2 separate regions of the Homo sapiens genome follow, and region 2 is linked to region 1. The links come from fine-mapping of genetic effects on gene expression. A gene starts in region 1. The other region holds a variant in brackets. All regions are shown on one strand. Distances are from middle to middle. Region 1 holds the start of GTF2E1 (general transcription factor IIE subunit 1). Region 2 has its middle 46 kb from the start of GTF2E1.

What was found. PIP is the estimated chance that this variant, and not a neighbour inherited with it, causes the effect.
Region 2: its variant is the best candidate, but not a certain one, in a credible set for the expression of GTF2E1 in whole blood (INTERVAL, PIP 0.63).

The regions. Positions count from the first base shown.
Region 1 is chr3:120,740,319-120,744,720 of GRCh38, forward strand. It overlaps GTF2E1 (general transcription factor IIE subunit 1), which reads left to right and starts at 2,426. Exons shown (of 5, transcript NM_005513.3): 1 at 2,426-2,476. RABL3 (RAB, member of RAS oncogene family like 3) reads right to left here and starts at 2,198. Exons shown (of 8, transcript NM_173825.5): 1 at 2,144-2,198. The coding sequence starts at 2,189. RefSeq lists enhancers at 1,459-2,097, 1,929-2,218, 2,098-2,736, 2,184-2,478, 2,359-2,478.
Region 2 is chr3:120,786,091-120,790,492 of GRCh38, forward strand. No RefSeq gene overlaps it. Among named protein-coding and RNA genes, the nearest start is that of GTF2E1, 46 kb to the left of the region's middle. The variant TTAGA/T (reference allele first, on the strand shown) is at 2,168.

The sequences.
Region 1 (4,402 bases):
TGGCACGATCCTAGCTCACTGCAGCCTCAAATTCCTGGGCTCAAGTGATCTTCTCACCTCAGCCTCCTGAGTAGCGGGACTACAGGCGTGCACCACCATGCCCGGCTAACTTTCTGTACTGTTTTTGGTAGAGAGAGGGTCTTGCCATGTTGCCCAGGCTAGTCTTGAACTGAGCTCAAGCAATCCACCCGCCTCAACCTCCCAAAGTGCTGGGATTATAGGCTAGAGCCACCTTGTCTGGCTAAGTCATTTCTTTATATATTTGTGAAACCCTCAAAATTTTATAAGGGAAATGGCCTTTATTTAAAAATAAACTTTCGGGTTTGAAAGAAAGGCTGAGGAAGTGTAAAAAGTGCATTCTAAACTGTCAGACTGTGTACTTTTAAATCGCAGTTAAAAGGAGACTGACAAAATTACCTTTTAAAAAGATAAAAAGACAATAACTAACTTTGCACATAAAGGTTAACATTAGTGAATGTGTGACAACATCAATCACTTTCCTGGCCATCACAGCTGTGTCTTCTGCTTTACAACTAAACCATAACAGGGGAGGCGGGCAGTAGGGAAGCTTATCAATTGCCTGATTACTTTTCCACATTTAATGTAGCTGCTAATTCTATCCCTGTTATATGACGCATTAATTCCACAGTTATAACCCCAGAACCTAATACAGTGCCTGTTGGAAAGAAAATAAATTGACTAGTTGCAACAGTTTGTAATATGAAGGGATTGTTAGATACAATAGAAAATGGAATTATAAAGGACACAAAACACCCACTTAACGTATCATGAAGAAGTCTGTTAGTTCTGGATTGTAAATTCTACTCAGTGATACTCTTGCCAAGTCCCTTTAGGCCACAATTACTTTATCTGTAAAACTGAGTGATTTTATTAAATTAACTTCGGCACCACTTCAAGCTACCTGATAGAAATGAAGTCGACATAAATTGTGATTATGTTCATTAAGTTTCAAAAGGCAACTTTCTTAGGGGAATATTAAATAATGCTCTCTGTAAAATATTTCATAATGCAAATAATCCTCAGGGCAATGTGAAAACATTCTTAACCTATATTTGCTGCCCACAATTTTATTTAGTTTCTATTAAGTTTTCAAGCCTCTCCACCTCCAAGCATCTAGCACAACGTCTTTGCTCACAACACATGCTCTTAGGCCAACTCCAGAGGAGCGCTTCTATAAAATGCAAGGTCAGCATTTATTGAAGTTACTAAGGAGAGCTGAATTGGGGATTATGGAAGAAAAGATAAGGGCAGTGAGGTGGGAGCTGGAAATCCAGACGCCAGCTGTAGTTCTCAAATGTCCCAGGTGTCAAAAGAATTCTTTTTGCATCCACTGAGATTAAAAAAATATATATATATTTAACACTAGGATTAAATTGGGCTCAGCGTTAAATCCTAGCTGCTTCAGAATAAAACTCTTACTTTAATTTCTCTATTGTACAGTCTAGGACATAATAGGTTTTCAATGAAGATCAAACGAGAACCAGGAAATTAAGCTCAGTTAAGAATAAAACAGGACCACTACCCAATATGTCACTGCATAATTATAACTTAGCGTTTAAGTTCGTGGACTCCGCGTTCAAAAGGATTCTGTCATTTACATCTCTCTGCCTCACTACTCTCATCTGTAAAATGGGATAACAGGACTGTCTCAGAATTAAATGAGTTAATACATGCGAAGCGCTTGCCAGTGCACGTTTCTCAGTGCACGTTTCTCAGTGCACGTTTGACTTCCTTAATGAACAAAATCTCTTGAAGGCACGGTCCTACTAACTTCTGTACCCTTAACATAGAACCCCATACAATACTCAATGCCTGCTTTTTTTTTTTTTTTTTTTAATAAAAGAATTGACAATACACTCTAGGCTGGGGTCGCCTGGGAGACCGATGCGGAAAGCCGCGAAGGCAAAAGACCCGGGCTCCGCGACCCCCACCCGCGCGACGACGCCGCCGCCACCGCGTCGTCACACGGAGCAAAGTCCCCTGGGAAGTGTAGTCTTCAGGCCCTGGGAGGGACTTCAGCCACGGGCCGAGGAGCCAGGAAGTTGAGGGAAGGAAGCTAAGGGGAGGGTTACTGGGTAACTCAAAAGTGTCTGGAGCCCCAGAGGTAGGGTAAGCCGCTCACCTGAGTCTCCCAACACCAGTACCTTCACCCGATCCAGGGACGCCATCTTGCCACTGCCTTCCCTGGGTTAACGCCTGTTCCTGGATTGTAAGCCAATCAGAGTTGGGCATGGAGGGCAGAGCCTTCAATTTCATTGGCCACTCGGAGCGTGACTGTCTTGATCGAAGGTTTCACTGAACTCATTGGCTGGTCTGGTAAAAGGTAGCGGGGTGCTTCCCCAGCTGGTCGCAGGAATAGTGCGTTTTCTTTGTCGCGCAAGGGGCGTGGTTCATTTAAGCCGGTAGTTGAAGCGCTGGGGGCAGCTGTAGTGGGAGTGTTCCAGGATTCGCCTTGGTAAACCTTGTTCCCTGTTCCTTGTTCGGAGTTCCCTGGCCGGGCATTGCATTTCATGATTTCTTCTTCCTTTCGCTCCCTCTTAACTATCCTCCCCTAATGAATTACCCTGTTGCCTTGGTCCTCTTGGTCCTCCAAAGAACCATTGACCCCGGAGCGGCCCGTGTGCGACCTCGGGTAGGGCGGGCTTGGCTGCGCCGAGTGTGGCCCTGGACCCAACTGGGAGAGTCCGAGGGAGTTTGGGGTCTCGGAGTCTCGCATTGGGGAGGAGTGCATATCACCGAACGCGTCTCGTGGAGGGCAGCTGGGTCCGGAGGTTTCGCGGTAGTTTGCCGCTGTGTGTGTGAAGGCGTGGAAAGTGCCATGAAATGTGGTAACACAACACCGCAGTTAGATGTGTAGAATCCCAAGTTGTTCTAGAACTGGAGTGGCGATTTACTGAAGTAATCTAACTGGTCTCTTCGCATCCACTTTTCTTGTTTTTTTCTCCACTCTGCAGTCAGTACAATCTTTTAACATCCTGAATTTGATCCACGCACCTCCCGCTTAAAACTGTTTTAAATTTAAGAAGAGAGTGCCCAGTAGCCTGTCCGATTCTACCTTGGAAACAAGAGTGGAGGAAGTGAAGCAGGGGGAAGCTGGCAAGATGAGCCATGTTGGAACAAAACGTGCCTAGGAGACATATGGAAAGTTTTATGGAAGTACTTGTCTGGCTATGCTAGATGCTGGAAATTAATTGGTGAACAAGATGAAGTCTGGTCTTAGAGATAGACATGGAGAAAGTACAAGAAGGGGGAAAGAGCCATGGAACACGTGAAAGGGGATGATTGTATGCTACTTAATGGGGAGTCTGGGAAGGCCTCCATGAGGAAATATCATTTGAGACTTGAAGGATGATTAGGAGAAGGGGGTTTGGGCTTAGCTGTAGGGGCAGAAGGAACAGCATGTGCAAAGCCTTGGGATGCAGGGAAAGCACATGTGGCTCATGGAATTGAGAATATGCTGGTGTGGCTGGTTATGAGGCTGACAGGGTAGACAGAGGGCAGAGGGTGCCTTCTTTTCAACTTTGTTTCTCTGGCTCCGTGCCTGGTGCACAGTAGTCCTTAAATGTTGATATGATTAAAATACACGTGGGTCTGGGCTGGGGTAGGGAGGTGAGGCTGGGATCTGACTCATGGACTATGGAGATCAAAGGAAGAAACAAAGGTCCTAGGAGGTCCCACGCTCAGAAGTCTCCAGAGACCAGCCATACTCCTTCCCTAATAACGCCAGCTGCTATTCGGCTTCAGCTTATTGTTTCCATGTGGGAACATGGGCTCACTTTTTCCTCAGATATTTCCAATTTTGCAAGAGGAGCTGGAAGTTGAAATTTATGTGAACTCTTACAATTTTTAAATGTTGACAACTAATTCAGAAAATTTTTGAAACATTCTTTGGGTGATACAATGCGTGGGGGGCTGCCAGTTTGAGAACTCTTACCTAAGACCTCTAGAGATTGAGTAAGGAGATTCAGCGTGAGTGGGAAGTGATGGAGGAGAGAAGGTAGTGGTCAGGAAGGAGGATTTTAGAATGCAGAGATTTTGAACAAAGTGGCACAGCTTGATTTCATTCCTGAGCTCTAGTTTCATTTGTTCAGCTACCTGCTGGGCATATTCAGAGGAATATCCTATGGTATTTCCTCAAAGACACTTCTAAAAGTGATTTCCTCATTTCTTCCTGCTCCTCGTCAGGGGTCACCTATTTCTCATGGCAGTACTTTTCCTAGCTACGCTGGCTCAAAACAGAGAGCTATTTAAGATTTTTCCTACTCTCATATTCTGTATCCAATATATTTTGTTGGGTCCTTTTGATTTTTTTTTCTGTAATAACTTTCATTCATTCTGTTCTCTTCTTGCAATTTTTTTGCCTTCTTAGTTTAGATTTTAT
Region 2 (4,402 bases), 46 kb after region 1:
TAATAATAGCCATTCTGACTAGTGTGAGATGTCTCATTGTGGTTTCGATTTGCATTTCTCTAATGATTAGTGAGACTGAACATTTTTTCGTATGCTTGTTGGCCACATGTATGTCTTCTTTTGAGAAATGTCTGTTTATATTTTTTTGCCCATTTTTTAAATGGAGTTGTTTATTTTTTGCTTGTTGATTTAAGTTCCTTATCGATTCTGGATATTAGACCTTTGTTGAATGCACTTTGCAAATATTTTCTCCTGTTCTGTAGGTTGTTTACTCTATTGATAGTTTCATTCGCTGTGCAGAAGCTCTTAAGTTTAATTAGGTCCCATTTGTCAGTTTTTGTTTTTATTGCAATTGTTTTTGAATCTTCATTATAAAATGTTTGCCAGGGCCTATGTCCAGAATGGTATTTCCTAGGTTTTCTTCTAGGGTTTTTGTAGTTTTAGGTTTTATATTTAAGTCTTTCATTCATCTTCAGTTGATTTTTGTATATGATGAAAGGAGGGGGTCCAGTTTCAGTCTTCTGCATATGGCTAGCCAGTTATCCTAGCACCACTATATTGAATAGGGAGTCCTTTCTCCATTGCCTGTTTTTGTTGATTTTGTCAAAGATTGGATGATTGTAGGTGTGTGGCTTTATTTCTGGGTTTCCTATTTTCTGTTCCATTAGTCTATGTGTCTGTTTTTATACCAGTACCATGCTATTTTGGTTACTGTAGCGTCGCAGTATAGTTTGAAGTCGGGTAGTGTGATGCCTCTGGCTTTGTTCTTTTTGCTTAGGATTGCTTTGGCTATTTGGGCTCTTTTTTGGTCTTCTCATATGCTAGGGTAATTCAAACCAGGTGAAGGATATTTTAATTAAGGGATTAATGTAGGTGGCAGGTTTAGAATTGAGGTTGTAGCAAAGCACAGCAAAAGCATGAGTTAATTTGGTTTCTCCTTCCTCATCTTGCCAAGTTACTTCGTTTCTAGTCATCTGAATGAGTGAGGGAGAAATAATTCATTCATTTCATAACTTGTTGGTATTATCTGAGACAAGTGGACACTGAATGGAAACAAGTTTGGGAAGAACAGTTCATTTTCTTTTCTAGCAGTTGGCTTGATGGCTAGGTTTCCAGCCAGGACCACAATTGAAAGACTTACATATGTACTTTCTTATTCTCTTTATTCTTGAGTTTAAAAGTAGAAAATAACAATCAAAAAACAAATACGAAAATCTTTAGAATTTAGAAATTGGTGTAATTTCACCTTTGTTTTGTTTCCACTAAAGCTACTTTATGTCATCTCTAGCAGAGCTGAGCTACTATCACTTTATTTTTTTTAATATCTAAAAATGAGGAAGATTTCCAGAAAAGAACTGGCACTATAGTAAATTTACTGTCAATTTTGTTGGCTCTTTCTGCTACAAAAGAAGCAAACTAAACAGTGAACAAGATAAGTACAGGTACTTTTAAAACATCTAATGCAAAAATGGGTTGGGAAGGGGAAAGAGTTATGAAATTTTACTTCTTCCTTTGAAGAGCTAAAGGAATGAACCTATTTTGGCATGTCCTCAGGGCAGGAACAAGTACCTTAGCTTCTCCTCAGAAAGAGCTTCATGACCTTCTGAGTATCAGAGGTGGCCTTTCCTATTCTAGTTGCAAAGCAGGTAGGCCTAGTACACAATCCAGTTTCAACAGTCAACCAGTCAACCCACGTTTCCCATAATGCAGAAGTGCATAATGGCCTACCTAATGTAAATAAGTCTGAGCAATTAGTCTGGAAAGAAGGCTGGTGCCAGGTCTGAAAATGCCTTGAATCATTGGGGCATACAGGATGGTTGTACAGTTTTTTGTTAATGTTTTAATTATTTAAAAATTCATTCAATAGGAAATATATATGGTAAAAAATGAAAACTCCCCAGCCCACCACTATCTTACTACACTGAGGTAATCATTGTTGATAGTTTAATGTGTATCCTCCCAGACCTTTTCTAGGCCTTTAGAAACCACACATACATACTACAGTGCTTTTTACACAAATGGAATCATATCATACACATTGCCATTTGGTTTTGAAATATCTTGGAGAGCTTTCCATTCAGTATGTTTAGATCTTCATTTTAAAAAACAAAATAGAATTTTATAGTTGTATAATGGTTTACGTAAAAATTCCTTTATTGACGGGCAT[TTAGA/T]TAGTGTCCAGTTTTTCACTATTACATGCTATAATCAATTACTCATTTTCATTCTCTTCGAGTATTTCTACAGAATAGAATCATAAAAAAGAAATAGCCAAACAAAGGGCATGTCTATTTTAAACTCTGATATATACTGCTAAACTGCTCTTCAAAAAGATTGCTGGATGATTTTAAGCAGAGGAGTAATTTGTAGTATTGATACTGGATTGGAGTTTAAACCTAGAGATTATTAAGGCCATTTCAATAGTCTTGGTAAGTAATTTGATCAAAAGACCTGAGCAAGTCAGTGGGGATGAGAAAGTGGGGACAAATTTAAGAAACTCTGGGGAGGTAAAATTAATGAGATTTGGTGACTGTTTGGATAGGGCAGTGTCTTGGATGATTCTCAGGTGTCAAGCTGGTTAGTAATTCCATTAACACCATTATAAATATAGGAGGAGAAGCAGGTTTTCCTTCTGTTCCAGACTCAGTAAATGTCACCACCATTTTACTTACAAGCTCAAGCCAAAAGTCTTAATAGTTTAATCCCACATCCAACTTACCAGCAAGTCCTGTTAGACTCAAAATATAATCTGATTTCGAAAGTAGAGGTGACAGGACTTGCTAATAAATTGAAACTATACTCTAAATCTGACTTCATTGCTTCCACCACCTCCACCCTACTCCCAGCCACATGAACTCTCACCTTGACTACTCCAGCATCCTCCCAACTGGTCTCCCTGCTTCCATGCTTATCCCCCTCTCACACACACATGCATTTTAACCATTTCCCACACACAAAGGGATCTTTTAAATCTAAATTAGATTATCTCACTCCCCTTAAAACCCTTAATTGATTTTTCTTAGAATAACATCCAAACTTACTCTATTCACTAGGCTTTACATGGTCTAGCCCCTGGCTACCTACATCTGCTAGTCTACTCTCTAACCATATTGACATTCTCTGTGTTTCTCAAATAAGCCAGCCTTTTTCCTGCCTTAGATCTTTGCCCTAGTGGTATACTTCGCACTTGTCCCTGTTATTTCATTCTCAGCTTCAGTACCACCTCACAGAAGTCAGTCTTCTCCTTTCTCTAAAGGAATCGCTTCCACTATCATATTTTTGTTTTATTTTCTTCATAGAAAAATTATTTGAAATGAACTTGTTTATTTCTTATTTGATTGTTTATGTCTATCAACCCCTCAAAAGACTGTAAGCTCCTTGGGGGCATATAGAATTAATTCTGGCAAGTAGTAGGGTCTCAATAAATGTTGAATGGATAGATGGACAGAATTGGCACTAGGGAGAACATAGCCTTTTCTCCACCAGGGCTCATCATTTTGTTCCTGCCTGAATGGCAAGTCAGTTAATTATGTTCTTAATCAGTTAATTACGTTCATTTGTGGAACATGTTACCTAGGGCTGTGTCTCCAGGACCATCAGTAGGGGATGCTGGGATATAGCTTCTAGGGCATAGCCAATGAGATGTTTAGAGGCTTTAATTCTAGTAGCCATTAGCTTTAGTGTTTTTAGAAAAGGGAATTAAGTGAGTACTTTGTCTAGGGCTGCAGTGTTCAATAAGGTAGCTTGGTTGCTAGCATGCACTTGAAATGTATCTAGTCCAAATTGAGGTAGGCCATAAATATATAATATATGCTGAATTTTGAAGACCCAGCATGAGAAGAAAGAATGTAACATATCTTAATTTTTTATATAGAATATACATTGAAAAGAATAGCATAGAATCAATTGAATTAAAGAAATATAATGTTAAAAATAATTTTACCTTTTTTTTTTTACTTCTTTTAATATGACTGAACATGTAAGTCTACATAAACGGCTCACATTTGTAGCTTAAATTCTATTTCTATTGGACAGCACTGGTCTAGGGCATCTTCTTCAGGTGCTAGAGTTACACGAATAACGTTATGTATTGTACTTAATGATTATTTGCATTTTTCCTCATATACAAGTTTTTTACCTGAATGCTGTGCCCACCCTCCTCTCCTCCCCCACCCTCTACCTGAAAGGTAGGTTTTACTTTGTTTGTAGGCTCTTTGTTCTTGGGAACGAATGGATTTTGTTTCTGGTTTATTTTTTCCCAGTGGGGAGGTGGGTTGGGGATGGTTGGGGTAATGTGTTTTGTTTGTTGCTTTTTTCTTGAAGTAGGATAGAATGGAAGGAAACTGCAGTAATGGCGATAAGGAACTGAAGTTTTTAATTACTGAGACCAATAGTGTGACATTGA